2 separate regions of the Homo sapiens genome follow, and region 2 is linked to region 1. The links come from fine-mapping of genetic effects on gene expression. A gene starts in region 1. The other region holds a variant in brackets. All regions are shown on one strand. Distances are from middle to middle.

Region 1 (14,980 bases):
CCTCTGCCAGGGCCCGTGGGCAGTGTTGCTGGCCAGCCACAGCCCGGGACATTCTTCCAGCAGGGCGGACAGCAGGCGGCCCCCACAGCAGGGCGGGCAGCAGGCGGCCTCCACAGCATTTCCATCCTGGTTTTCTGCTGATCCTGTTAGATCTTTCTGGGATTTCCAGGCTCCCTTCACACAGAGGAAGGAGCTGGCCTGGGACCTACGACAGGACCTCCTGGCACTGGGGCTGCACCGGCATCCCGGGCCCCTCGCTGGCCTGTGGCCCCTCACGCCAGCAGGCCTGTTCCTGCCGGGAGTTCATGCTCCTTCCAGCTTCTGTTTACCTGGAGAGACCTCTTAATGCCCCGGGGTGGGGAATGCCACCCCCCAAGTCCCCAGCCTCTGCATTTCCTCTCTGCCTGTCCCCTGTGGCTCTTCTGTACCTGGTGGGGCAGAAGAGGGACAGTTGTCCCCTGCGGGATGGGAACATTGCCTCCACAGTGGGCAGCTCCTTGTTGCTCAGCGTCTCCCCCACCAAGTCCGTCAGCGGTTCAAGGCCTTGGTTTCTCCCAATCCCGTATCTGCACCCAGGCTTGCCAGCATTATTGCTCAAAGCCAGGGCTGGGGGTGTCCCTGATGTCACACACATCCTCCCCCATGTCACTCCCACACAGCAGCTGCCAGGAGCCTCTGACTTTTAAAAAGCTCATCTTCATCATGGCTGCGGGGTCTTACATGGGGATTCTGAGCCCTTGCTGCCCGCGCAAAAACACCAGCGTCCACTCAGCCAGCAGGCCAGTTAAACCCAGGGCTGGGCGGGGCATTTTCCACTCTGGGACTTCATCATTGCCATCAACTGCTCTTGGCTCTCTAATAAAACCATGGAACCCAGGCACGGTGGCCACGTGCCTGTCAAACCTGCTTCCTCATCTCCTTCCAGGGTTCTGACCAAAATGTGAACAAGTAAATTAAATTAAAGTGCAGTTCGTTTCTGAAAAAACATTATTTTCCTCAATGAATGTTCAAATTGTGTTTTATTTTCCTCTTTTTAAAATACTTTTTTTAAAGAATTGTTTTAGGCCGGGCATGGTGGCTCATGCCTGTAATCCTAGCACTTTGGGAGGCTGAGGTGGGCGGATCACTTGAGGTCAGGAGTTTGAGACCACCTGACCAACATGGTGAAACCCCGTCTCTACTAAAAATACAAAAATTAGCCGGGTACTACTCAGGAGGCTGAGGCAAGAGAATCGCTTGAACCCGGGAGGCAGAGGTTGCAGTGAGCCGAGATCACACCACTGCACTCCAGCCTGGGTGACAGAGCGAGACTCTGTCTCAAAAAAAAAAAAAAAAGAAAAGAAAAAGAGAAAAAAAAGCCAGGTGCAGTGGCTCACGCCTGTAATCTCAGCACTTTGGGAGTCTGAGGCGGGTGGATCACCTGAGGTCAGGAGTTTGAGACCACACTGGCCAACATGGTGAAACCCCATCTCTACTAAAAATACAAAAATTAGCTGGGCGTGGTGGTGAGCGCCTGTAATCCCAGCTACTCGGGAGGCTGAGGCAGGAGAATCACTTGAACCCGGGAGGCGGAGGTTGCAGTGAGCTGAGATCGTGCCATTGCACTCCAGCCTGGGCTACAAGAGTGAAACTCCATCTCAAAATAAATAAATAAATAAATAAATTGTTTTAAATTTACGAGACAGTTGCAAAGATAGTTCAGAGAGCGCCACACACCCACGCCCAGCCCCCCGGGGTGCTAAGGTCTCACGTCACAGGCGACATTGGTCACGGCCAGAGTGCCAGCATTGTCCACGGCAAGGAGCCGGATGCTGCACTTCCCTGACGCCCTCCTGTCCCAGGGCCCCGTCCAGGACCCCAGGAAACATTTGCTCCTCACTCCGTGGGCTCCTCTAGGCTGTGGGTTTCTCAGACTCGCCTTGTTTTTCATGACCTTGGCGGTTTTGAGGACTGGTCAGGACCCTGGTGGAATGGCCCTGGGTCTTCCCAGTGTTGTGCCTTTTCAGCTGCCTGGTGGGAGCCTCCTGAGGGTCCCCTGCATGGCCATGCTGCCCCCCATGGAACCCGAACACCGGCAGGTCTCCAGGGCATGGTAGCTGGCCAAGGACTTAAGATTAGAAAGGTGTTGCCATGGCCTGATTTCTCCGAAGGGTCCCATCTAGTTTGCCTTGTCCTTGCAGGCTGGCCTCTCCCAGTGCCAGGACAGCAGCAGCAGGACAGCAAGCAGCAGGACTGGAAAGAACCGAGCCTACTCCTCACTTCCAGGCATGGACTCGCCCGCCTCACCGGGTCACGGGCCCGACCCCCGACCATTCACTGCAGCTGGGCAGCCTCATCCGGAACACAGAGGGATGGAACAGGGCAGGGCTGGGTCCCCAAGGCAGGACTGGGGCCACCACCTCAACAAGGGGTCCCTCCGCAGTGTCCCAACAGACACCATCTCCCTGCTGGCCTGAGGATTCTGGAACTCGGCTGGGAATGGCCCCAAGAGGAGGAGGTGTTCTTGAAACATCTTTTCGAGGTTTATGAGACATTCTATTAGCCCAGCCTCAGACAACTGTTCGTGGGAGATGCAGCATGTGCACCCCTGCGATAATTTTCTAGGCAAGAGGCAATAAAAAGAAGTGGACTCTAACACGAAGGCACTGCCGCCTTGGTTTGAAGGTTTAAGGCAGGCCCTATATTTGGGGGCCAAGAGACAGTGAGCACATAAGCATTTAATCGGCAACATGGGCAAGGATCATTTCAGAGCGTGCTATATAGACAAGACCCACTTTAATCTATTGGAAACTTGTTTCAGGAGGTGACAGTTTGCTCGTTCCCTTAAACGCTATTTAAAGAGGAAACCAAATTATCTAAAATCGGTGTGGACAGTGGTGGACACACAGCTGACCCTCTCTGTCCTCAGTTTGCAAATACATAGGATTCTGGCTGGGGCGCAGCTCGAGACTAGCCCACGATGGCGACGTGGCAAAGAGGTTTCCAGGTGCAGCCTTCACGGGGCGTGGGTCACATATGAGGGGGCCAGACTCTGGGTCAGCCATTCGTGCACAGGTGCTTTGATCTTCGCAGCTGGTGCAGATATTATCGCCCCGCCCCCGCCCCGTCTCCCAGTTTGGGATTCCAGATTCCCCAGGGAGCGAGAGCTGGCAGCCCGCCTCTGCAGCAGCCCCGTGGGCAGGGCCAGGTGGGGACAGTGTGTGCGCTGCAGGTGCAGAGTCCCCAGGGAGGCCCCGTGGTGTAGCAAGGAAGCTGCTGCATGTGGCTGTGTGGGGGCACTGGCTCTGTGGAAATGGGCACTGCCTGGCCTGGAGCCCAGCACCCCCTGCACCCCTCTAGCCACAGAGGCAGCCGTGCTGGGGCCCTGCCAGCAGCTGAGTAAAACTGCTAATGAAATAGCACCGTTAAAAATGGGCCTGCCGTCCACGCCAGAGTGCTTCGCTGGCCCCCAGCCCAGTGCTCCCTAGCACGGGGTCAGGGTGTGGGTCCCCAGGGAGCAGCTACAGCTGAACACTGCCCCCGCCTCGCCTGGAATGTGGTCCATTCGGCCTCGCGGCCGTTTGCTGTTTGCCTCGCGGCCGTTTGCTGTTTGCCTCGCGGCCGTTTGCTGTTTTCATGCTCTTTCTCCATCCAGGGGGTTTCTTGATGCCAGGAATTTCACCAGCTTTGGCCCCTTCCTCTCCTCCCTTCCTGCCTTCCTCTCCCTTCCTCCCACCTCCAGCAGCGTCTTTTTCTCCTTTCAGAATTTCAGATGGTGTCTTCCATTTGCATTAAAACCAAACAGTTTAATCATCATATTTAAATAAAGGCGTTGCCTGGAACTGCTCTCTTCCTTAATAATGAACCTTGGCATGAGGAAGGAGCCTCTATTTGTATTTTTAAAATTGCTTTTACAAGGTGTGGGGAGGGCCCTTCTGGAAGGAGAACTTTCTTTGCTATTTCTGAATGAGGAAGAGTTTGCATTTCTCTGGGTTGCCCGGCCCAGTTGTTCGTGTTGTCTTGGAGTAACACGGGGAACAGCTGTTCATGATAAATGTGTTGCTCACATGGCCTCAGTGGTCCCCACCAGTGGCTTCTGGGTATTTAGCATGGCCTGGAGGCCTTGAGTTACGAGGGCTCCCCTGTGGGCTCTGCTTTGTGCACCACTGAGCTTCAGGAAGCCGCTGTGAGGTGTCAAGCCATGCCCCCTGCTCCCCCCAGCTCAGCACGTCCTGAGCCCCTGAAAACTCTCACCTTCTCCAGACAGACAGGACTTGCTGGCTGCTTTAGATACTAGTACAATATTGTGGATGGTCGGGGGGGTCCCCAGGAATGGCCAAGGGAAGGGGGTGTCCTTTAAACCCCTGAAGCTGGGTAAGGAGGCCTTTTAAAAAATAGGGCTGTTTACAGGGGGCAGGGCCAGCTGAGGCCTTGGACCTCCAGAGACACTTCCTCCCCCAACTTCCTCCACCCCCAGCCCCATGCCACCCATCAGGCCTGCTCTGGCCAAGGCCCTGCCTTTCACCCAGCTCCCTCTCCATCAGCCAGAGAAAGGATGCTAGAGAAAAGTGCACCTTCCCTAGAGAGGCTACAGGAAGATTCCCGGTCCCGGTCAGGTGGGCAAGTCTGGTGGGCAGTGCCAGCGGATGCAGGGCTGAGCTGCGCCTGGCAAGGGCCAGCCAAGTTCACGGAGGGTTGAGCTCAGCAGGCGCACCACAGGCCTGCCTGCTAGAAGAGGTCATTGCGGTGGTTTCTGTGGGTCCCCAAGGCTACAGGGGTGTGGGTGAGGCAGGAGGGTTGGGGGAAGGGGCAGGCTCTGACCTGGGGCACCGGCTGGGAGGGTATAGCAGTAGGTCGGCTCTGCTAGGAGTGTGTGCACTTTCTACACCTTCAGGTTCTGAGCAGCGAGTCCTGAGCCAAATCTTGTCTCTCAGGAAAACCTTGGAGGTGTCTGTGTGTGCATGGAGGTGGGGTGCACCTGCTCCCACAGGTGTATGCTCCCGGGGGGTCAGGGTTGGTGGAGCATCCAACCCTTGCTGAATGCAGACCTGGGACACTGAATGGGGCAGGAAGCCCCCGGCTGACCGGACTGCAGCAGAACTCGGGGCTGTTCTGGGGCTTGCCTCCCTCCCCTGCAGCAGACAGGGCTCCAAAGCTATGGGGCAGGTCCTGGCAGGTGATGGGGCAGGTCCCGGCAGGTGATGGGGCAGGTCCCGGCAGGTGATGGGGCAGGTCCCGGCAGGTGGCATGCACGGGTGGGCTGTGCATGACTCGGGGCCTTGCTGGGTGGCCACACGAGTGACTGGAGGCATTTTCAAAAGATGCCCCATGGGTCTCCCAGCCCCAGGCTCTTCTCTAGCATGACCAAGGCTGCTCCCATGGAGGGGTCTCTGTCCCCTCTTCTGGAATCTGAGGGCCTCGTGACTGTCGGAAAGGATGCCAGGTGGCTCCGCGTCTCGGCTTCCACCTCTCTCTCAAGTGCTGGCCTCGGGAAGCCCACCCATGTCACATGTGGGGCTGCCGGAGAGGCCCAGCCCGAGATCCCGGCTGCAGGTCCCACTGATGGCGGCATCGTCTGTAGGAGACTCCCTCTGGAGTCTCCAGGCTCTGGCCCCAAGGCTTCCCCGAGGAGGCTGCAGACCTTGGGGAGGAGGCCTGGGCCATCCCAAGTGGCCTGTCGGAGTCTCTGACTCACAGGCGCTGTGAGCAGCAAGCATGGTCGTCCCGCAGCCTAGGCCTGGGCGCCTATTGTGCATCCCAGAAGCTGGAACGCGTGCTGGGCACAGACAGCTCCTCAGAGCAGAGTGGCCAAGCTGTGGCACGTCTGGGGGCCGATCCCCGTAGGGCTGAGTCTGCCAGGGGCACCAGCCACAATCCTGAGTACTGATTATGCACTGGCTGAACAAGCTGTCCCCAGCGGCTCTGCTGTGGTTCTTTGGTTGAAGCAAACGCTGGCGCTGGGTCTCACCTGCCTCCACACTTGCCCTGGCTCCTGGAGGCTCCAAGGGATGGGGCATCTCGTGAACAGGTGGGGCCTGGGTCTGGCCAACTGTGTTTGCCTCTGGCGGTGGCCAGGTCCAGCACCAGCACTTTGCTCACTCTGGTCCCCAGAGGGCTGGGCAGGTGCTGCGGCAGGAGGTGCCCCTGACCGCGTGGCCTGCTGGAAAGGAGCCTCCCAGCTCAGCGGCAGCCGGAGACAGTGTCCAGAGTGCCCGCAGTGCCACCCGAGCTCAGAGCCTCTCCCAGCGCCAGCACGATCAGAGGATGCTTTAACCGAAGCCATTAAGCTGTCACGGCCCATCCGCCTCCCGCCCCTTCCTGTCAGTTACTGCAGGCGGGGGGGACGCGGGGGGCAGCAGCAGCGGGGTGGGGGGAGCCCCTCCGCTTCCCTGAGTCACCGCCATCCGGCCAGACTGCCCACCACCGGCTCTGAGCTCATCGGCTCTGCGGTCAATCACTTCCCTCTGGAGCTGGGCAAGGCACTGGGGAAACGTGGGCCTGAGCAGGACTTTGCAGCCAAGGCCACTGGACTAGCTTGAGAGTCCTGGGCAGCATCCAGGCACGGGCTCCAGGCCTTCTGCCCCAGCTCGAGGTGCCATAGCAGGTGCCTCTCATGGGATTGGGGCAAGTGGCACAGTCTTGAGGCTCCCCCAGTCAGACCCTTCCCCCTTCTCCCCAGGCCATGGTGGGCAGGTGGCCACTTCCGTTGCTGCCTGTGTCTGAGGACATTGGCCCAGGGTTGGCAAGAAGAGGAAGGTGTTGCATCAACATGCAGCACATTCACCTGACAAGGAGCTGGCCGCAGCCTCCGCTGCCAAACGGTGACGGTGCTGGCTGGTGCCCCCAGGAGCTGTTCACCACCTCCCGGGCTAATGGCGCTTGCTGCCTGGCACACAGCAGGTGACTACACTGCATGGCTTATAAATGTGGCCTCTGCCAGGAAATCCTGGGAAAGAGCCAGGGAGGTGACGTTTTATCCACGAGCCTGCTATGGCTTAGCCTAGCCCTCCCCTAACTGTGACCAAGCTCTGGATGAGACACAGACAACTACTGAGGACCTGCAAAGTAAGGAGACTGCAGGGCGGAGGCGGAACTTGGAGGAGTGACCTGCCGTGGAGTTTCTGGTTTCCTCCTTGTGGCTTTGTCTGGAGGGCAAGCCCCACTCTCAGATCCACATGGCAACACAAGCAGCTAAAACGCAGATAGAAACCCCAACCTGGGAAAAGGAGTCCTACAGGTAAGAAAGGGGTGGAACCCCAGAATGGGGAGAGCCGGGGAAGAAGAGAGGGGTGGAACCCTGGAAGGGGGAGAGCCGGGGAAGAGAGGGGGCAGAACCCCAGAAGGGGGAGAGTGGGGGAAGAGAGGGGGCAGAACCCTGGAAGGAGGAGAGCAGGGGAAAAGAGGGGGCGGAACCCTAGAAGGGGGAGAGCCAGGGAAGAGAGGGGGCGGAACCCCGGAAGGGGGAGGGCTGGACACGGCAATTGCCTAATTCTGTGCATGAATCCGCATAAGTCTCACAGTGCCACCCAGCAGTGCCAACCCAGCAAAGGTCTTGAGAACCACACTGAGAGAGGTGGGGTTTGGGATGAACCTGGCTGCTAAAGTGGAAACAGCAACGTTCCCCGAGGGCTAGGACAGCACCCAGAGTCCACACGGTGTGCTCAGACGTAAAACAAAATTACTCAATAGACACAAAACTAGGAAGGTGTGATCATCCTCAAGAGAACAGACAATGCTCAGATGCCAGCCCCAACTGACACAGATGCCTACAGCAGCCGCGGTAACTGCTTTGCGAGTTGCACGCATACACAGCACACGCACACACACCTCAGAAAGGAGCATTAGATGAAATGAATAATAAACCTCACAGAGAGGTAGGAAAAAAAATAAACAAATGAGTATTTTTGAACTAAAAGAATAGAGTATCTGCAATTAAAATTGTACTGATGGACTCAATAGCAGAATGGAGACAAAGGAAAGCCAGCGAACGTGAAGACAGATAAATAGAAAATATCCACTCCGAAGAACGAAGATAAAGAGGAAAAACAAGAACAAGCATCACGGGCCAGCTGGGGTCGTATCGAAAGGCCCAGCACATACCTGGTTCCAGAAAGCAAGGAGGAGGTTGGGGCAGAAAGTTATTTGAAGGAATATTGGCTGAAACATCCCAAGTCTGGTGAAATACATAAATGTAAGCATTCAAGAAGCTCAGTGAACCCCAAAGAAGATAAACAGAAAGGAAAATAGACCCAGACATAGCATCATCAAATTGCTGAAAACTGAAGAAAACATCTGGAAAGCAGCTAGAGAAAAACAACACATTTCGTACACAAAAGCAGTGACTCCAGTGACTACAGAATTCTTGCCAGAAACCACGGCAGCCAGGAGACAGCAGAACGATGTCTTTAATGCATGAAAGGAAAGGTTTCTCCTTGCAAGGTGTTTGTTCATTTCTTCCAAGTTGTGGAATATATGGGCAGAAGATTGGACACCATCCCCCTCGACTCTTTTTTCCCATCTGTAGGGTCTGCGGTGATGTCCTTTTTAGCCTCCATGTTTGTAATGAGGGTCTCTTTGTTTTGGGGTCAGTCTGGCCAGCAGCTTATCAATTGTATTGATCTTTTCAAAGAATCAGCTTGGGTTTCATTTATTTTCTCTATTTTCTGTTTTTGTTTTTTGTTCAGCTGATTTCCACCCTGATCTTTATTACCTTCTACTTTCCGCATGCGTTTTGTAATTTATTTTTCCCTTACTAGTTTCTCCAGGTGAAAGCTCCTATCATAGTTGGCAAGGGTTTTCTGTAAAGGGCTAGAGAGTAAATATGTTTGGTTTTGTGAGCCACGTGGTGTCTGTTGCAACCACTCAACTGCTGTTGTAGCGTGAAAGCAGCAACAGAAAACACATAAAATACCAAGTTGTTCTCCAGCATAACTTTATTTTCAACAGCAAGAAGGGGCCAGACATGGCCGGTGGGCTGTAGCTTGCTGGCTCTTGGCTTAGAGTGATTTGTGATCTCTTCCTTTTTTATCGTTTCAGCAATTACTGCTGTAAAATCTATCCTAAACACCAGTCAATCTGCATCCCACAAATGTTGATATGTTGTTTTAATTTCCATTGAATTCAAAATAGTGTCTAATTACCTCTGCATTAACCCTGTGCTTCTGCGCTTTGACATCTGGGGTGACCCAGGAGGGGCTCCCCCTCCAAGGGCTTCCCAGCAAGATCACCCTTCATAAGCAAATCAAGGATTCCAGAGCCCACACCCCAACCGCTCCCCAACTGGGCCACACTCTGGGCCAACGTCCCCCTGCCCTAATCACCCCAGGGCCAGGAGCTACACCCAGACCAGCTGGCATTAATGCAACCAGCCAGTTCTCCACCTGTCCACCCCCTGGCCTGGTCCTTCCCACACCACGTTCCTCGCACCCTCTGCCTCCTGGCCTACCTGGTGCTTGCCCTGTGCCCCTTCACCGTGGTGATGCGGCCAGCTCTGTCCTCTTGGGACCCGTGACAAATCATCTTTTTGATGGTGGTTGTCTCCTGACCTGTGGGCCTCACCCTACCTGAATAACAATGAAAGTTACATTTTAAAAATACCAGGTCACCTCCTCTGTTGATATGTTGTTTTAATTAACAACTTCTAAACAACTCATGAGTTCTTTTGGTTTTTTTGAGATGGAGTCTTGCTCTGTCAGCCTGGCTGGAGTGCAGTGGCACAATCTCGGCTCACTGCAACCTCTGCCTCCTGGGTTCAAATGATTCTTGTGCCTCAGCCTCCCGAGTAGCTGGGATTACAGGTGTGGGCCACCATGACCAGCTAATTTTTGTATTTTTAGTAGAGACGGGATTTCACCATGTTGGTCAGGCTGGTCTCAAACTCCTAACCTCAAGTGATCTGCCTGCCTCAGCCTCCCAAAGTGCTGGGATTACAGGCGTGAGCCACGACGCCGGTCGCTCACGAGTTATTTAGAATTGAGTTGCTTAATGTTTCAGGATGTTCTGTATTGGGTTCTCCTTTCATTCTAATTCTGGGATAGTCAAGGAACACAAGTCTCAACAAATCTTGAGATTATTCTTACTTTGTTCTCTGCACGACTTGAGTCTTTTAAGATCTACTGAGACTTGTGCTGGGACCCAGCGCGGTCGGCCTTGGTCACTGCTCTGCGTGCCCTGGAGAAGCATGCACCGCTGCTGGGGTGCAGTGTCTGGCACGTGCCATGGTCCAGCTGGCCCCCGATGTTCTGTGGGGGCATTGCTCCCCAGCGTGTCCGGACAGGTTCTTGCTGAGCACCGGAACCCTGAACATCCAGGGAATGAGGCGTCAGACACAGTGGGGGAGCTCCAGCCAGCGAGCGCCTGCTCCCGCTCCGGGAAGCGCTCCTGGTCCATGGCATCACCGTCCTCAGGCGCAGTCAGGCCTGGGGATGTTTCCTGCCACCGGAAGTGCCCTGAAGGTGTCCTGGTGGCCGCCGTGTGAAGGGATGATGTGACTGTGCACCACAGTCCCCATTTCAGGAGCACGATTCACCCCGGGACGCGGTCCTGAGACCGTCCCACTCTTTAGGGGCTGTGGGGGATGGAGGAGGGGCTCATGAGAGTCACCCAGACCCACAGTTCACCCTGCATTTTCCCAGTGGTCCTGGGCAGGCCACACTCTCGGCCTCCAAGAACTCGCACCCCTCCCATGACAGAGGAGCCTGGGATCAGGGAGAGGGGATCGTGTGCTCGGGGGCACCAGCCCCATGAGAGGACCTGTGTGGGAGGTGTGTGGTCCTGGCACAGGGCCTGGAACTGCCAGGGCAAGGGAGGGGAAGGACACCCAGCACTACTCTGATGTGCAAACCCTAGAGCTGCCTCGTGGCCACCCCGGGAGGAGAAGGAGGGAGTGTGCAGGGCTGGAAGGGCTGACAGCGCTTTAGACACCGTAACTCCACATTTGTGTTTTTCATGCTTGGAGCTTCTGTAGGAAGATGGAGGTTGGCCAAAGTTTCAGTGACTAAAAGTGTGAAATTCATTTAAGTCCATCAAACTCAAACTTGTGCAGGCACCAGGCAGTCACCCTTGATGAAGGCAGCTGGCCAGGCATAAGGGACACAATCCGCAGAGCCAACGAGACCAGAAATGATGCTGGACCACAGAGCGCGTGGACAGTGAGGAGCGGTGAGGCCTGTGCAGAGGGCAGTAGCCAAGCCCAACACAGCTGAGTGCAGCCACGCACAGCCCAGCCACGCCACACCACGCCCAGTCACATCCAGCCCAACACAGCTGAGTGCAGCCATGCCCAGTCCAGCCACGCCACACCACACCCAGCCACACCCAGCCCAACATAGCCATGACCAACCACACCCAACCCAGCCCAGCCTAGCCACGCCCAGCCCAGCTCAGCCGTGTCCAGCCCAGCCACGCCCAACCCAACACAGCCACGCCCAGCCCTTGGAAGCCACACCCCACTCCCCACACCACACCTGAATACAGGCCTAGTGTTACCAGAACTTCTAATTTTCCAACAGAAATGTGCAATTGGGGTCATTATGTTCAGTTTCCCAGTTTTGAATATAGTTTCAACTATCTTGACCAGCTCTACTGAGGATTATTTGACACAATCAACTGCACATGTAAAAGTGATGATTTGGAAAGCTTCGACCTATGTGCACACCCACGAAACCCTTCCCATGGTCCACGGTGAACCTCGTCACCCACAGCATGTCCTCCTGCCTGTGTCCTCCCACCCCTGTCCCCAGGAACCACCGATGTCACTACAGACAACTGCATTTTGCAGAATTCCATATGAACGAAGTCACATGTATACACGCCTTCTTTCACGCAGCATAATTATTTTCACGTTTGATTTTGTCATGTGTTTCAAAATTCCACTCCTTTTTATTTCTGCGTTGTATGGATGCACCATGATTTGTTCATCCAATCACTTGTTGGTAGACATTTTGGTTTTTCCCCCAGGTTTTTGCTATCACAAATAAAACTGCTATGGACAGTCATGCATAAGTCCTTGTGTGAACGCGTTTTCATCCCTCTGGGAAGAATTCCTAGGAGTGGAACGGCTGAGTCTCTGGTAGGGGTGTGTCTAGCTTAAGAACCTGCAGGACAGTTTTACAGAGTGGCCGAACCATCTTCCATCCCCCCCAGCAGTGTACGGCAAACTTTCAACAGCACTGCACAGCCCTAAGACGCACATGCCTGTGGGTGCTGCCCAGCCGTGGCTGCCAGCTTGTCTCTGGTCCAGATCACTTCTTGTTCAACAGATGGGGAGGCCTAGGGAGACCACAGGCCATGCCAAAGGTCATGCAGCAGCTGTCAGCTGAGCAAGGCTGGCAGTGGCCCAGGCTGGTCATGCCCCCTCCATGCTGGCAACTGTCTCCACCAAGGCACACTCTGGTGGAAGCTGGAGGCAGGGGACACTACTCTAAGTGGAGTCATCTGAGAGATGCACCGACCACACCTCTTCTGTGTTTCTATCCCCGAGCTCCCAGGGGCCAGGACCACCTGCCCAGGGAGTGCTCATTGTGCCAAGAAGAACATGACCCAGCACAGGGTCACTGCAGGTCCCTAAGCAGAAGGGCTGGCCCGGGCAGGACCCCAAAGGCTCGGTAGCAAGGTGCTCCTCCCGAAAGCTGTGATTCCCGGAGTGATCCGGGCTCCGGGGTGGGACCTCCTGGTGCAGGGTCCTGAGCTTCGCCTATGCCAGGCTTTGGAAGCATCCTCTGAGGGCCCCTTCGGAAGGAGCATTGGGATGAATTAAACAGCAAGGCAGGGCTCGCCTAGTGCATGCTCTGCTGACAAATGCGGTCATTTTTCTCGATTCTGGGAAAGAAGGGATACGGACTTGTTTCGTCTTGCCATGTCTAGAACTCCTCTCGGAGTCTCCAGTTAGTAGGGAGAAGGGAGTGCCGTGGTCTCTGGGTCCTGCTGGCACGTGGAACCCAGTTCTGCAGGGTCTCACACCTGTCCTCTTCTTGTCACCCTCTCTGTCTTTCTCAGCAACTTTTCAGAAGCTTCAGAAGAAGGACGCCGGAGAATGCCCGCCCGGGACTCCGAGGTGCCCTGTGCTCATGGATTGGTCCTCCTGGCTCCATGAGTGTGAGTGAGTGTCTGCAGGTCCCTGGCACAAAAGCTGCAGTGCTGAGCAGGTGGCTAATGGCCCTGGCTGGGTGATTTTGGACAAGTCACCTTTGCCTCTCTGGCCTCCATTGTCCCTCTGTCAAACAGGCCCCACGACAGCAAGCGTTGGTTATTGTGTCTATGGTCAACATCCCACCTGCCTTTCTGGGCAGAGACGTTTGGGAGCAGTGGCTGTATCCCTGAGCACGTCGTAAGGGCACTTTCCTGCATGCCCTGGCTGGAGGGACCTGTTGCTGGGAAAACTCCCCAGAGTGTGAACCGGCGGCGGCTCCACCATCTGGGTGCCGTGGGCATGGTGCATGGCGGGAAGGAGGCCGGCACCACAGAAGGGTGGCAGCTGTCCCCGGAAGGCTCTCCCCTGAGGGCGCCCAGGGCTCCACCGCTAGCCAGCCATCTCCTTGCAGTAAGGCACGTTTCCTCCAGATCCTCTCGGAACTGCCGGGAGTGGCTGCCCCACCCGCCCAGCTCTCCCTGGGTCCTGCCAGGCAGGGAAGCGTGAACCGAGACGGGCTCGGGATGGCTCTCAGGCCCTCCCTGCTCTCAGCACCAAGGGAGGCACCCAGAGACTGATCTGTGGGGGCAACGGAGACTCCGGGTCCCCCCACCAGGATACGTCCCCTTTCTTTGCATCTGATGCTGACACACACATACGAGGAGCCCAGAGGCAGAAACGGGACTCAGAGCCTGACGCTGAGGCTGGTGTGTGGGGCTGCCTCTCCCAGTGCTGAGGCTGGCGTGTGGGGGCTTCCTCTCCCGACACTGAGGCTGGCGTGTGGGGCTGCTTCTCCCGACGCTGAGGCTGGCGTGTGGGGCTTCCTCTCCCGACGCTGAGGCTGGCGTGTGGGGCTTCCTCTCCCGACGCTGAGGCTGGTGTGTGGGGCGGCCTCTCCTGGTGCTGAGGCTGGCATGTGGGGCGGTCTCTCCCGACCTTGAGGCTGGCATGTGGGGCTTCCTCTCCCGACGCTGAGGCTGGCGTGTGGGGCTTCCTCTCCCAACCTTGAGGCTGGCATGTGGGGCTTCCTCTCCCGACGCTGAGGCTGGCATGTGGGGCGCCCTCTCCCGACCTTGAGGCTGGCATGTGGGGCTTCCTCTCCTGACCTTGAGGCTGGCATGTGGGGCTTCCTCTCCCGACGCTGAGGCTGGCGTGTGGGGCGGCCTCTCGGGAGCAGGCGGCCTCGGGGATCCTGGGGGTCAGCAGCCCCTCCACAGCTGCACCTCCCGGGACTGACCCTGCAGAACCCACCTCCCGCCAGCCCCTCCACAGCAGGACAGCACCCGCCTCCTTTTCCAAGGCCGCCTCGCCCAGTGGAGGCTGCAGCTCTACTGGGTGTGAGTCAGGAGGAAACGCTCGCAGCCAACACAGGCAGGACACGCCCACGTGACATCGGATCCCACGGGGAGGAGTCCACTGGGCAAATCTGAACAATGTGGGGGAAGATATTGATGAGATGTTAAACATAACCCATAGAAGAAGAATCTACAAGTCCGTACTGACGTAAATAAATAAACAGGCATTGGGGAGAGACAGCTTTTCCTTACCATAGAATTCCAACTCAGCCGCAGAATCCTGGTGGGAACCGTCATCAAAGTCAACGGGAGCAGACACCACCAAACCCCAGATCAAAGTCAGCATCGCCAGCAACGGGCACACGGACACCAGGAAACTCCATCAGCATTGCTTTTGCTGTATTCTTGACAAAATTGTACAGTTTAATTTTTTTTCTTTTTTCTTTCCTTTTTTTTTTTAGAGATGGGGTCTCACTGTGTTGCCCAGGCTAGAGTACAGTGGTGTGATCACAGCTCACTACAGCCTTCCGTGGCTGGGACTACAGGCACACACCACCACATCTGGCTTGTTTTTTTG
Region 2 (14,980 bases), 33 kb after region 1:
CTAGGGAACGGCGAGGAAGGAGAGGCAGCTATGGTGTTCGAAGCATCAGGGAGGCTGACGGTGGCCCCAGGCAGGCGGGACCCAGGCACACTCAGGAGGCCTCGGCCACACATCCAGGAGCGGGAGATCAGCACTCTCCCAGCATCTCAAGGGCACGGCCTCCTCCGGCACCCCCTGCCTCAGACTCCCCGCCCCACAACTACCCAGGCCAGGCTGGGAGAAGGAGCAGAGGTGGGGACTAGGGGCCTGCAGCCAGCCTCTGCCCAGGCCGCTTGTGCGGGTGGCGAATGTTGATGTCTTTCAACTGCATGGCCCCACCTGACCCTCCCATGAGGAGGTGAGAGCAGGCTTGAGACATTGGTGGCTTCTCCAAGGCCCCACACCAGGACTTTGCTGAAGGGCTTCGGACCTGAGCCCCGCCACCTGTGGCCTCCAGCTAAGGGTGTGGTGAGGGCTCACAGCGCTGTCCTGGACTCAGTTTTATTTGGTGTGAGCCATGACAGGGCCATCCCACACTTAGACTGGGTTCCGTGAAGGGGAGTGATCTGATGTGGCGCCCTGGCCCGCCCCTCGCGGAGCTCACCTCCCTGCAGCTAATGGAGTGGGTGCAGGGGCGGCGGGCTGCAGCCCCCACAGCATGAGCTCATCCAACTGGGCTGATTCACAACAGAGAGTGCCTGCTCTCCCAGGCTGACAGCGGCGTCTAACAAATGAGAAAATAAGACACTTCCTAGGGGCCATTTCCTCCCACTCTTGGTTCCGGGAATGAAAAGAACTCTCCGAGGGGCTGCGGGGCTTTGCTGCTACTGCTTTGCTGTCTGTCCTCAAGTCAGCTTTGCTCTCCTGAAAGACCCTACACATCCACAACCGCCCCGGGCCCGGTCAGGAGGTCCCTGTGTGCACAAGCCAGTGTGCGTGCAAGAGAGACTGTGAGAGAAGACCCAACACCTGAAACTGCAATTTGGCTCGTTCTGAAGGAGCCTTTGGCCGTGGATGTGATGGATTTATGGGTGACAGGCGCACTTTGCAAAAAAGAAGCGATGAGCAGATGTGCATGCATTATCCACAGAGTGCCACGTGCAGCCTCACGTCCAAAAGATGCAGATGATTTACTCACTGCTGCGTCCACCTGCTGGTGTGAAAAATATGGAAACGCTCCACCCAGAAATTCCCGTGTGGGACTGGGTCTCCCCACCCTGCCCCACCAGGTTCTTTTCCGGTGGGGAGAGCTGAGGAATGGGGTTCCCATAGCAGGAAAAGCCTTGTGATTTGTCAGTGAAACATTTTTATGAAATCACATTCGCCATTTGCTTTTCTCTCAGGTTTTGAGTTGGAGCTCCCTTTGTCTCCCTCATTGCCCCTGGCCATCTCCCGAGAAGCTTATTGACGAAGCTTCACTTAGGTACGGAGGCCCTGGAGGGGCCCTCCTCATGCCCCTGCCCACCTTCCTTGGAAAGCACCCCAGGTAGTCAGGCACCTGCCCCGAGTCACAGGAGGCACCCCCCAGCCCCCCACCTGGGTTCAGTCTCCACTGAACGCAGCATTTCTCCCAGGGGTCTCTTTCACTGTGTCCACAATGCAATCCTGGAAAATGTACAAAATTGACTGTGTACATTGACACACAGATGGTCACCCAGCGTGTCTTCTCCTCCAATGAGGAAACGTGTATTACAGCTGCTATAAAGATACACCCTCTATAGGAAAGTGGCCCCAAACGTCCCAGTCTGCAGTCCACAGCGCCATACCTGCCTCACGTGCCTGTCCCCCGGGCAGCTTGGGCAGTGCCAGCCTTGCCTCTGCGCTGTTCACAGAGCCTGCTTTCTGTCGCTGGCGTTGGCACTCACGTCTTTCTGTTTTCACTCTTAGAAATAAAGTAAGGTCAGAGCACAGGAAAGCAGCTCACCACCCACCCACCACTGTATCGAGACGGCGGGGCTGCGGGAGTCGGCCCACCAGGTGGGAGGGCAGTGCACGGTGGGTGACAGACGCTCACGCGGGGCCTGGCATCAGCACACTGTGGAGGCAACGGTGCAGGGTGGCCTCACTCTGCCTGCCCAGCGTCCCTCCTCCTTTCATTATCAGGTCCCTGGTTTCAATCCGGGGAGCCTGGGTAGTTCTAGGGGATGGCTTTCTCCCACCCCAAGTGGTCAAGTGACCCAAGCCTGGCCAGCGAGTGCCCATCTTGGGACCTTTGCTGGGTTTCTTGAAATGAATCTCTCTCGTGCTTGCTCTTTTGGTGTCTTTTTCCCTCTGTCTCTCTCTTTCTCTTTGTCTCTTTCCCTCCTCTCTGTCTCTTTCTCTCACTCTGTCTCTTTCTGTCTGTGCGTCTCTCACTCTCTGTCTCTTTCTCTCTGTCTCTCTCTGCATCTTTCTCTCCCCCTCCACCTCTCTCTCTCTCTCTCCCTCTCTCCTCCCTCTCTGTCCCACCGATTAGATATATAAGCCTGAAATCTCAGTGTCCATTTTGCTCCGCCTGCAGACAGCCTGCCAGGAGTGAAGCTAGCCCCAAGGAAAGTGGAGCTGAGCTATGGAGAAAGATTTCTGATGACATGGTTTGGGTTCTGGATCCAGCCCTATTTTCAGACCTCTTGGCCACATAAGCAAGTTGATTCATCTTCTGAGTTGAGTTTCTATCCCCAGCCAACCCAGCATGGCAGGAGTGACAGCAACCAGCCCCATGTGGCTCCTGCAGCCCTGCCTCTGCCCTCTGCACCCTGTGGAGGCTGAGACTCTCGAATGCCCATCAGCAGGCCAATGGTGTCGTCATAGAATGGAGCCCTTCTCAGCAAAGAAAAGGAACAAAACCTATGGAAACACACAACAGCGCAGAAGAGTCTTAAAATGATGTTGAAAGAGGCCAGGCACACAGCCCACACACTGCATGATTCCATTTAGAAAGTTCCAGCTGAAACAGATCTGATCCATGCTGGCTAGTCCATGATTGCTGGGACAGAGGAAGGGGATGACTGCCAAGGTATATGAGGGAAGTTTTTGAACTGATGGAATCTTCCAGATCTTGGTTGTGATGGTGGTTGCATGAGTGTAAAACTCAACATTTGTTAAAACTCTACAAACTTCACACTTAAAATCTGTGCATTTTTTTTGTATGTAAATTATATGACAACCAAGCTGACCCTGAGAGAGCACGCAGGACGTGGGGTCCACCCGATGAGACACACCTGGCCAGAGACAGGACGATCTGAGCTGCAAAGATGATAATAATTGCAGTGGACTGAGACCTACCAAACACGTTTCGGTTCATGAATCCATAATGATACATATTTCTTTTAAATTCAAAGGCAGTCACCATTTATTAACTTACCAGATTACAAAAATAATGATGTAGACCTGAGTTCATTCTGCTAGAAAGCCTGCTGGTCTGGTCTTCCTGGCTGCCAGCACCCCTACCTTCTACAAAACGAGTGGGCTTTTTCTTCATTTCACCTGGTGGAGAAGAGAACTTCAGCCCACAGGAGGTAGTCTGCTTCTTTGAAGTGTTTTCCAGCAGCGTAGATCTCATGCATCAGACCCTCCACGCAGACGATGCCGTATTGACCAGGAACTCCAGCAGTGGAAGAGCGCTCTCCAAGGTGGCCCGCTTCCTGTTGGTGTTGCCGGAGCCGTGCCTGGAGACCTGCTCCTCTACCGACTTCGTGTTCAGGCCCCCGACACAGTGCGGTGTCTGCTTCCACGTCCTGAAGGCACGTTCACTGAAGCCTTGCTGAGATGGACAGATGTGCCCCTGAAGACACAGTAAAGGTGAACAAGCTGCAAGCCCACACCGGGGACCCCCTGCTGCCAATGGCCAGGCCAGTCTGGGCTCCCAGGTGCGTACGACGAAGTGCCTCTGTCCCAGTGCCACAGTGACTCGGATCCCAGCTCTGGGCTCTGTATTCCTTGCGGTGGTGCAAAGCTTTCTCATAACTCAGCTTCCCCCTTGGCTTTCAAAGCATCTTTTTAAAAACTCCTGTCTCAGGCACCTGATCTTTAGTTCTGTGAAATCCTTCACTGCTCCATAAGGGGCTTCTGGTGCAGCAGGAACCTTCTCTTCCCTTCGATGCCGTCCACAGTTCCTGCTGGAAAGGGGCCTGCGCGCACAGTGGTATCGAGCAAGCCAATCCTCAGGAGGGCTTCGGGGACCTGGTGCATTTTCCTGAAAAGCGGCGGCTGCAGGAGAAGATTTGTGCCTTTATCCTGCTTCCTCTGGACAGTGGCACTGGGGATGAGACTGCGTGGAGGAGAAGAGTTTCCATAAAGGTATCCCGACAAATAAGTGAAAAAGAACTTCCAGACTCAGGACATCACCGTCTTGCAACCTTGATGGATTAGTGGCTTGAGGCACAGAGCAAGCCTGGCCACCATTCCAGGAGTGCACAGCCCTGACCTGTGTCCTCCTGATGGGGGGACAAAACAGAACCTGGGTTCCTGCTGCAGGGATGCAGCCTGAGTGGGAGGAGTCTCCGGGTCCAGCCACCAGCACACAGGAAGCTCAGAGGACAGAGGAACAGGCAGAACTGCACCAAGAGGGCGCCACCAGCAATCCTGATGCATGACACACCCCAGGCCAAACGACCTGGTCCTTCAGCAGACACATTATAAAAAAAAAAAGAGAGAGCAACAGGAGGGACCTACAGACTGAAACAGACTTGAAACATTTTTAAAATCAAGCTGTTATAAAAAGTTAGGCAAAGCTGGCAGGCTGTCGTGGCTCCCTGCCTCCCCACAGGCCCCACTTTCCCACAGGCCCTGCCTCCCCACAGACCCCGCCTTCCCACAGGCCCCACTTTCCCACAGGCCCCACCTTCTCACAGGCCCCGCCTCCCCACAGACCCCACCTTCCCACAGACCCCGCCTTCCCACAGACCCCGCCTTCCCACAGGCCCCGCCTTCTCACAGGCCCCACCTCCCCACAGGCCCCACCTCCCCACAGGTCCCATCCCACTTCCTGTCTACAGGAACTTCCACAGGGTCTCATTGAGGTGCCAGGGCAGAGGGGTGGTGAGGGGCCATAGCTTTGGGGAGGGGAACACAGAGGGAGAGGGAAGGGAAGGGGGAAGCACAGGGTTCACCTGGGAAAGCCCAAACAACCCCCCATGTGACTGCCTCATTCTGAGCTTCTCAGGGAAGCTCCCTCAGCCACCTCCCACCCATCCCCCTCCCCCACCTCAGGGACCCAACCTCCTCCCTCACTCAGCCTCCCCTGTCTGCCTTAGCTCACACCCAGCCCCTTCTCCAAACTGCCTGCGTCTGCTGCCGGAACCCTCTGTTGGCCCCTAATCCTACTGATGGGTGGTCTCACCTGCTGCGAGGCATTAGGCGTCTGTGTGATTGTGTGGTGGGGGGATGGGAGCGTGTGTGCATGTGAGTGTGTGCACATGTGTGCCTATGTGTGTGTGTTGTGCATGTGTGGGTGTGTGCATATATATGTTTGTGCACATGTGTGTGCCTGTGTGCATGCATGTGTACTCATGTATACATACATGAGTACCTGCATTGCTTTGTGTATCTGTGAGAAGCTGTGCATACATGTGCGTTTATGTGTGTGTGGAGGGGTGTGCCTGCATGTCCGTGTGTGGGAATGTGCAGGTAAGTGCATGTGTAAGCATGTGTCTGGGTGTGCACGTGTGTGCCTGTGTGTGCATCGTGCATGTGTGCATTGTGTGTGCCTGTGTGAGAATGTGCATGTGCCTCTGTGTGTGTGTTTGCACGTGTGTGTGTTTGCACATGTGTGGGTGTGTGCACATGTGAGCCTGTGCCAGTGTATGGGGTGTGTATGTGCTTGTGTGTGTTTCCCCAGCTGTAAGTGCTTGGCATTGGACTGAGCCAGAGGCGCACTGACGAGGAGAAGCACATGCCAATGCTGCTGGTGCTCGGTGGCATGACCGCTGTCATTCTGAAGTTTTTGTCTGACAGTGGAGGGATCTCCCCCAGAACACACTGGGGAGCTGGGGAGGATAAACAAGGTCTGAAACTGGGAATGAGCAGCTCATCTTTATTAAGGGTGGGCCTAGATACCCGTTCAGGGGCCATTGGTGGCATAGGTGCCAGGTGGAGTCCCTTCAGCAGTGGCTCCAGCCATAGCAGAGGAGGCGTTCCCAGCTGCACGGACTGGCATCGCCTCCAGCCCTGGTCAGCACAGATGTGCTGAACTTCCCCGTCAGCTGTTGCCCTTCACACACTGGAGCACTGTGGGGCTGGGGCTGAGAGAATGCCTCAGCATTGACAAAGAGAAGAATTTCTTTCAAATGAGCATTTTCCTTTTCTTTGTGAGTAATGGACATTTCAGGGCTGACCTACAGGAAAAAAAAAAACCCAGGGCAGGAGCCAGGACCAGAATTCTGTCCTAGAGCACCAGCCTCGCCCCCAGCACGCTGGGACAAGTGGACACAAAGTGAGGAAGCAGGAGACGGAGTGGCCGGGGTGGGAGCAGGGTCTCTTCTAAGGGCTCAAGATCCAGGACTGAAACACACAAACCCAGGTGGTCGGCCCAGGGGTCCTGGGGAGGGCGTGTGGGTGTTCCCACTGGAGGCAGCAGAGCAGGGATCTGGAATCCTTGGTCCAACCCAGGTCATTGCTCCTTGTCTTCAAGAGTTTCCAAAGCTTCCAGATCACGGGTTGTTCCTGAAACTTGGGAGGCCGCATTGGCCATTCTGCCTGGGACCCCGCCTCCTGTTCAGGCCCTCGGAGGCTTGTCCACACCCTGCCCCCGTTCTCTGGCTTCCTCCACAAATACACCTGGAGGAAGTCCCAGGCCACGGACACGGGAGCAAGGGGCTGGGAGAGACAACCTCGACAAGCGACCCCACAGCCTAGCGCTTGGTGGCCCGTGTGCCCTGCTGCAGACCAGAGGCCGCCCGGTCAGCAGGACCTGAGGAGGGACAGGGTGCTGGGGTGGGAGATGGACAGCGCCTGAGCGAGCTGCTGAGGAGAGGGAAGTAGGGCCCTGCAGAGGGACGGGAGCCACGGCAGGGGCGGCAGGTGTGGTGGGTGCAGGAGGTGCGGTGGGCGCAGCAGGTGCGGTGGGCGCAGCAGGCGTGGTGGGTGACCCACGGGAGGCTGCTCAGGCCTTTGCCTCCATCCCATGCTCAGGAGGAAGGAAGTCAGGATGTTTTTGGTGATGCCATGGAACCACAGGCATGTCAGAGCCAGCAGAGTTTGGACAACGTTGTGCCCAGGGCTTGGCACAGGAGCATTTGTGGACAGCAGTGAGGTTGCTCGCATTGGTCATGGATGGCGTGTTGGCACTGCATTGACCCCAGGACCTCGGGCAGGAAGGTGGACAGAGCCACTGATGATACAGGAGGGGGCCCAGGCACTGCTCTGCAGAAAGGGCTGTTTATCAGCCCTGTGGCCGCTGCCTTAGTGTGTGTGGTGGGAGGTGGGATGGGGATGAACTGAGCTACGTATGGAAAAAAAGTCTGGAAGGAAGTGCCTGGCATCTCACCAGGGGCTGCTTGGGGTCGCAGAATTTAACCTTCTTTCTGCTTGTTTGTGGTCAACACCACTTTCTCCCAGAACAAGGAGACGCACACACACACAC[T/ACT]ACGTTACTTCATCCCTTGACATCTGGGAAACTGCACACACCTCCCACCCTCCACCCAAGGCTGCGGGGAGAGGGGAGATTCCACAGTGACCCACTGCAGCCAACAGGGTCCCGAGTGTGATGGCGGCTGCTAGAGTATAGAGGAGAGAGACGTACTGCTGAGAGGCCGGGGGGCTTTCCAGAGGAGATGGCCCGCTGAGGGGTAGGGAGGAGAGGGAGGGGACCTGAGCAAGGTGTACGCAGGGCAGGTGCGGGGCCAGCAGGCATCAAGAGGACCAGGTTGATGTGGCTTGTTCATAAGACTCACCAAACACACTCGGTAAAAATTCAGGTTCCCAGGCCCTTGCTCTGGAGGCTCTGACTGGGGTAGGGGTGGGTACGGGGCCTGGAATCTGCATTTCTAATGAGCTCTTGGACTTGTCTTACAGTGATACAGGACCCAGGATCTGCAGATCCTCAGCCGAGGTTGGGATGGGCCAACTCCTGTCACCTTTGCACCTGGTGGGGAGAGGCTTTCCCACAGCACCGGACACTTAGACCCATCCTCTCGGTCACTGAGCTGGCAATGTCCACTGCTCACTCAGGTCCACATTCTCACCCCTCCCAGGGAGATGAAAAGACAGATGGCAGAGCGCCAGGAAACATAAAGCCCGTTCCCCAGCATGGGCCCCCCTTCTGCTGCCCCCTCTCCCCTTGAGCCCCTAAGGCAAGATGCTCCAGGGACCCCCCACGCAGCTAAACACACAGCAAAGCATGGAGACCAGGCGCGGGCACTGAAGGCAGGAGCCCCCAAACTCAGGGTCCCAAACTCAGCCCAGCCAAGTCCAGCCAAGTCCAGCCAAGGGCCGCTCATTCCTGAGGGGAAGACGCAGCCCTGGGGCAGACAGCCCTGTGTTCCCATTCTGCTCTGGGCTCGCCCAGGGCTGGCTGTGTGACTGTGGTGAGCTCCTCACCCTCTCTGATGCCCAGGCACTCCGCAGCATGCCCAGCCTGGCAGAGCTGGCTCCCGTGCACCCCAACCCGAGGTTGCTGGGATCCTGGGATCCGAAACTGCGGTCCTCCAGTGGGCTGTGTCCCATCCCTGACCCCACTTCCTTGACCCTGGGGAGTAGCCTTGGCTTGGCTGGGCCCTGTTCCCAGTGGGCACCTGCTCCAGAGATGGGCATCTGCTGGGGGCAAGTTCAGCCCAAAGCCAAGAGGCTGCGGGGGGGAGCAGGGGATGTGGCATGAGACAGCCCCACCCCAAACCTGGAGGCTCCAGGCTCTGTCCTGCCCCAGCTGCCTCCTCCTGGTTTTTCTCTCCTGCTGGGCAGGCTGGGGCTGTTCATAGCGGTCCCACCACTGTGAACACTAGGGCTGCCCTGGGGCCTCCACCTGCACACTGACCAAACATGCAGCAAGGAGCTGGGAGGAGCAGTGCCGCCCTCGGTGACCCTGTGTCCCCGGCCCTGTGTGCCCAGCACCTGTTGCTCATGTATCCTCTTAATCTAGCCTGGAGGTGGCAGCTGCAACCAGGGCCAAATCCCCCCTGCCACCTGCTTTCAGACAGCCCCGAGAGCTCAGGACAGCGTTCACCTTTTTAACGACTAGGAGGAAAAAATCAAAAGACCCATTTTGTGACCCATGAAAATGATACGTATTCAAATTCCCGCGTCCGCCAATAAAGTTTCACTGGGACACCCGGCCGCGGTCATGCATTGCCTGGGGCTGCTTAGGGTCAGCGCCCGTGTGGCCCCTCGTGCTTGGCCCGCCAGGCATGGGGGCTGCTTCCAAGTGTTCCCTCATCTCCATCCACATGCCCTGTCTGTCCACACTGTGCGTGGCCTTGTGCCGGGCTGCACTGTGATTTCAGTGGACGAGGCCCCGTCCTGGGGATGGCAAGGCGGGTGCAGTGGTTTTTACTGGGGACCCCATGAAGATGCCCCGGGTGGGTAGGCCAGGAAACAGCCACAGTGTCCTACAGTCATCTGGAGCTGATGTCCTGACCATGGTGGAGCACCGGAGATGGTCTTAGCCTCATCTCATCCTTTAATTTACAGGAGAGACGGGAGGCCGGGAGCAGGAGGCCCTGGCTCTCGGCTGGCTGGGACGGAGCCTTCATTCCCCTCCGTTCCTGCCACCCTCCTCGGTACCCCGAGGCCCTGCCTGGCAGGGCAGCTCCCACACAGCTGTGGGCTTTCTGCAGCTGCATCACTGCCCTCAGCAGGTGTCAGTGCCAGAGGGTCGGGCTGGCGGGGCCGTGGGTGGCGAGGAAGGGCCAGGCGGGCAACACGGAGCAGGCGTCCCTGTTCACGGCCGGCGTGGTGACCAACAGGAACCCCAGGCTGCACTGGAAGGGACTCCAGTGGCTCCAGCCTTCCCTGGCGGGTGCTGGGTCAACAACAGACACTGTTCTTGGCATGATGTTTGCACAAATCCCTCCCACAGGCCCGGGAGTGGTTCCCTGAGTCCTCACCCGGGTGATGTATTTGACAGAGGACCTCAAGCTGTTGCACCCCAGCCACCTCACCGCCCTCCAGGTAGGAGGGAAGGTTGAGGGCAGGCCGACCAGGTCCTCGGCTGCGTGGATGTCCAAAGTCTCCCCTCCAGGACAGGACCAGGCCTCACCCAATGGACAGATGTCCCTGGCAGGAGACCCCGGCACCACACAGCTTGGGGTTGGTGGGGTTGGGGTCAGGCCACCCTGAAAGGCACGGCCACACCCAGGCCATCCGGCTGCCCCCTGTAAAGGGCTCAGCAGTGGAAGCCCCCGGAGGCTCCCAGGAGGCGGCGCCTGGCCAGGACCCCCAGCAGGGGCTGACCACTCTGCCCTCCACTCAGAGAGGCTTGAATAAAGGCTGAGGCCATGCAGCCCTTCGGGAGCAGAGCCCATGGATCCCGCACACTCTGGTCTTCAAACTCCAGCCCCAGCCCTGTGCTGAAGACTGGGCTGCCGTCCACTACCCCAGCCTCTCGGCCACTCCCACTATCTGGGGACATAGCGACTCTGTGTGAAGAGGGGTGGTAACACGGTGCCAAGGTTAGGGTTAAGCTGACCCTAGGAATTAGAGGCACTAAAGCTGGGCAGGGTGTGAGGAGGGAGCCGTGGCTTCCTGAGCCAGGGCCACTGTCTTCAGACCTGGTCTTCTATCCGTCCATCAGTCCAGGGGGTGTCTGCCCTTCTGCCTACCATGCCCCTTCCCTCTGCTCATCCCTCCCAGGGTCCTGACCCTCGCCTCACCTGCCCTGGGGCCGGCAGCTGGTGGCCCCTGAGGGGAGGCCCCACGTCTGCAACTCTGGGCAGAAGTCAGGGGTCACTCCTGACAGGCCCTGGAACCCCAGGCCTAGAGATGCCCAGCAGGAGCCCCCGTGCCTGCCCAGGCCTCCAATCTGCTGGCGCCCAGCAGCCTGAGCCCCTTCATGCCAGCCCCTGCCAAGGGAAGGGCACATGGTCGGGGACCCCCACAATGGGTCCTGGGTGCCACCTGGCCTGCAGACCCCCTTGCAGATCTCTGCTCACTGCAGCTGTGCCCGTTGATGGCCCAGCTTCCCTGCACATGGGCGTCACTGCCTCCCGCAAGAGGGTGGGGAGATGGGGAGCCCCTGGGGGCCCCAGCAACCTTCACAGGCACCTCCCCAGCCACGGGCCATGCTGAGGGGCTCCTGTTTGGTAGTCTCCCTGCCAGGCCCAGCACCCCTCAGGCCATCTGGAGAGATGCCACCGGCCCAGGCCTCCCCACTGAGGACACAGACCCCCACAGGTCACCAGCGCAGCATCCGTGCTCACCCCTGTGGGTCCCTGGAGGTGCCTTAGAGTCCAGGCCATTTTAAAGGAGAAATCGAAGAAGGGTCCTTGGGAAGAGGACAGGGCGGGGCCAGCCCAGGCCCCCGGCAGGCCCAACCCACAGGGCCCAGCTCCTAAGCCCACATTTTCAAGCAAAGCTCTTGTGTGAGCAATGAACATTGGTTTCATGGTGCCCTGGCAAGGAGGAACAAGCAGGAGCACCCAGCTGTGGGGATGACCCCGTTCCTCAGCCACCCACTTTCAGGGGGAAGGGTCTCGGGCTCTGCACTGAAGTGTTCCGGGGGCGGGGGCGGCACTCAGGGCTTCACTTACTTGGAGCTGACCACGTGCCGAGCCGGGCTCTCCCCGCGCCACCTGCTGGGTCCTCTCCACGGCTGCGGGACCTGCGGCCGGGCCGCACGGCGCCATCAATGCACAGCTACAGCTGGTTGAAGGGGACCAAATCCATTGGACAGTCGATTTGGTTCCATTTTACCAGCTCTAGCAAAGCATTTGGCTCCCAGATCCGAGGAACAGCGACGTCGGTGAAGAAGGCGGCTCCACCAAGCAGTCCCGATGGAGATGGGGCTTCGCGGCCAGCATCAGGCCCTTACCCCAACTCCCGGAGGGCCCCCACCCCGTGGAGTTTCCCTCAAGCTCTGCAGGGACTGGTGTGAAGGGCCACACGCCCCAACACACACACACACTCAGACATACACAGACACACACACCCGCTCACACGCAACTCACCACCCTCTCGCTCTGCCCGGGCTCCCCCATCGGGGACCCGCAGGGGTCTGGGGAGGGTCGGGGGTGCCAGGCGGCCTCCATGCTCTGGAACTGACACTCACTGCTCTCTGCCTGTCACCGCCCGATTCCTCCACAGCCCTCGCTTCACCAAGTGCCCACTGCCCCCAGCACTAGCCTCAGCTGTGGGATACAGCTCAGACCATCGGGCCCCGCCCCAGGGGGCTCACATCTGTGGGCACAGTGATCTTGCAGGTTTGAGGCCCTTATTCCCCTGCAAACTCCTCCCAGACCATGCTCATAGCTGGAGCAGAGGCAGGACAGACCTCCCAGTGAGCCTTGGGCCCTGGCTAACCATGGGGCAGCCCACCCAGGACCCCGTCCTGCCTGGCTTGCCATGGCCTGGGTGGGACGGGATGGACTCTGACACCACATGGTATCTCTGGGTAGGCAGGACGGGAAGATTCCAGGGACGTCCACATTGCATGGTGGTGGGAGGACAGCCTGAGGGGGCCTTCGTGGCCTGACCCTGGGCCCCATGCCCCAGACCTGCAGCCCTGCCCGCATCTTGCTGAGGGGCATTTCCATGCCCAAGGGAACTGTGAGGATGGAGTGTCAGGACGGAGGTCCGAACGTGACATCACTCTTGCCTGGCTCCCGCGTCCCCCACACCAATGTCACCTTCAGTGCCTTGAGAGCAAGTTCCCTTTTATAAAATGAGTCTCCCTGCAGCCCCCGTTCATCAGGAGCCGTGACAGGTGAGGGAGAGTGTCTCCGGCAGTGCTGGGGATGTGGCACCCATGTGTGTGAGCTTCTATCCGGGAGCACAGGCCGTCCTGGGCAGCACAGGTGAACGCACCTGCTCCTCGCCCACCAGGTTGGCAGAGTGGGCGCTGCGCACTAGGGCCTGTGCCACCTGCCTGCCCGTTGCACACCTGGGGCTGCCCTGCCTGCCTGTCCTCTGGCCTTTCTGTCCCCCTCCTGACATTGCAGGGACAGAAGCTCAGGCCCCTCAGGCAAAAGGGACGGTCGCACAGCACCATGCCCACGCTCCAAGTCCCCTCTGGGAGTGACTGAGCTGGACGACCCCCCACCCCAGCCTCTGCCAGGCCTGCTCTGACCCGTCCGTAGCTGCCTTCCCTGACTGTCCCTGCCACGGTGCCCTCCAGAAAGATCTGTGCCGTGTAGGAGGACCACCTCCTCAAAGTCCCCTATAAGTCGGGGCTGGGCCCCAGCCTTCTCAGCCTCGCGCCCCAAAACAGAGAGGCTTCCGGGCCATCAGCCCACACTCTGCAAACCTCTCTCCTCCTTACTCCAGTAGCACAGAGGGTGCAGGGCAGACCTCAAGGCTCCCAGAGTCCACCCCTCCCTGGCCCTGGAGTGAGGACGGCTCAAAGACCTCGAAGCCGGCACACACTTGTCCATTTATCGCCTGTCAATATTCCTAATGGAGCAGAAGATTTGACAAGATCAAGCCGGGGATTCGAGTCCCAGCCGCGATTCTATCCCATCAGGAGCTGGGAGGTCTGGCATTTGCCAATCAACATAGCAAACAAACTGGTCATTTCACCCGAAAGGCAGCAGAGCACTGGGGCAGGCTGCAAAACCCCCACGGGGAGGCCACTGCGGCCTTGGATGAGGCATCAAGCTTGGCGTTGCAGCCGCCACGGTGGTGGGCGTGAGCTGTGAATAGACACCGAGCGGCCAAGTGCCAGGTGCGGCCCTGAGCACCGACAGCCACCGTCTTCTCCCATACACCCCACTGTACCTCAAGGCCAGTCCTGTGCTGCCCCTCAGGAGGACACTGGGGCTCACAGCAGCGTCCCCTGCCCCGGGGCCCAGGCCCTTCTCTCTTCATGCTGCCCCATGAGGTGGCAGCCAGCCTCCAGGTACCCTCACCCCAATGTGGCCTGGCTTAGGGAGGTTCCCAGTCATTCTTTGCCAAGGGTGTGATCAACACCTTTTCTTGCAAATGTGAAGGAACAGGCCCACAATTCGTGTTCTTGGGACGTGCCGGAACTAGGTCCATCCTTCGGGCAGGACGTCGGGGACCCCTGTGGACCCGGGCACCCCCCTGTTCTGCTCTGCTCCCTCAGGCAGCAGCTCCCACTCACTGGCAGATCCTCTAGCCCCTTCCCCTCTGAACCCTGGGGTCTCACCAGCATGGGGCGAGGGCTGACAAGGGAGGTCCCTGAGGCTCCTCAACTTCCTTGTAAGTATTTTTTTCTTTTCTCTCTAAAAAGGCCAAGAAACCAACACCCCACAAGCCCCAAAACCTCCCCAAGGGCCCCATGGCTCAAAGGTCAGGTGCTTCACAGAGCTCACCCTTCCTAGACCCCCGCACCCCACGCTCTCCGGCCTTGGAGCTTGCCTTCCCCAAACTGAGCTGTGCTGCCTCCCGCCTCCCAGGCATGGGCTGCCTTCCTGCCAAGACCCATCCCCTCACCACAGCGACCGCCCCTAGCTCCTGGGGCCTCAGATCCCCGGGCCCCGAGGGCTCCAGCAGCCTCCGGGTAGGGGAGGGCCAGCCCTGCCTGGCCTTCTCTGGGGCCAGCTGCCACTGTGGTTTCCTCATCGAGTGAGGAGTCCCTGCGCCCCCCGAGTAAAGGCAAGCTCGCCAAGGGAGGGGCAGCTCCTGGCTGGTCCCCTCTGTGTCCCCGGCTGGGTGCCCAGACCTGGCAGAGAGGTGGCCCAGGCGTTTCTGGTGACTTTACCGTTCACCAGGACAGCAGAACTGGGGTTGGAGCCTGGGATGTGGATTCTCCGGAAAACCCACTCTGGGTCCTCCTGCCCCTCTCTTGACTCCAGTGCTACAGAGAACAAGGCTGCAGCTCCTACCGCTAGTGCACTTTATGAACCAAACAATTAAACAGGTTTTAAAACATCTGCTGATGGAGTTGTCCCACACAGGGAAGTACACTCAGCATTTT

Alleles and levels. Alleles are on the strand shown, and positions count from the first base shown. SD is a standard deviation of normalised expression in the study named.
In carriers of allele ACT in region 2, the expression in left ventricle of the gene that starts at base 6,753 in region 1 tends to be higher than with T alone (small effect, 0.36 SD a copy in GTEx).

What was found.
Region 2: its variant is fine-mapped to the expression of LINC02970 in left ventricle (GTEx, PIP above 0.99).

What each region holds. Positions count from the first base shown.
Region 1 is chr20:62,595,214-62,610,193 of GRCh38, reverse strand. It overlaps LINC02970 (long intergenic non-protein coding RNA 2970), which reads left to right and starts at 6,753. Exons shown (of 2, transcript NR_184037.1): 1 at 6,753-7,216; 2 at 12,976-14,980. RefSeq lists enhancers at 4,172-4,961, 4,962-5,752, 5,753-6,542 and a silencer at 6,285-6,434.
Region 2 is chr20:62,561,757-62,576,736 of GRCh38, reverse strand. MIR1-1HG (MIR1-1 host gene) reads right to left here. Exons shown (of 4, transcript NR_171007.1): 3 at 11,637-11,748; 4 at 5,973-6,293. MIR133A2 (microRNA 133a-2) reads right to left here and starts at 11,825; the gene lies at 11,724-11,825. It also overlaps the pseudogene RPL7P3. RefSeq lists enhancers at 32-531, 532-1,033, 4,500-4,629, 6,932-7,433, 14,061-14,578 and 1 more and a silencer at 4,820-4,909. The variant T/ACT (reference allele first, on the strand shown) is at 7,541.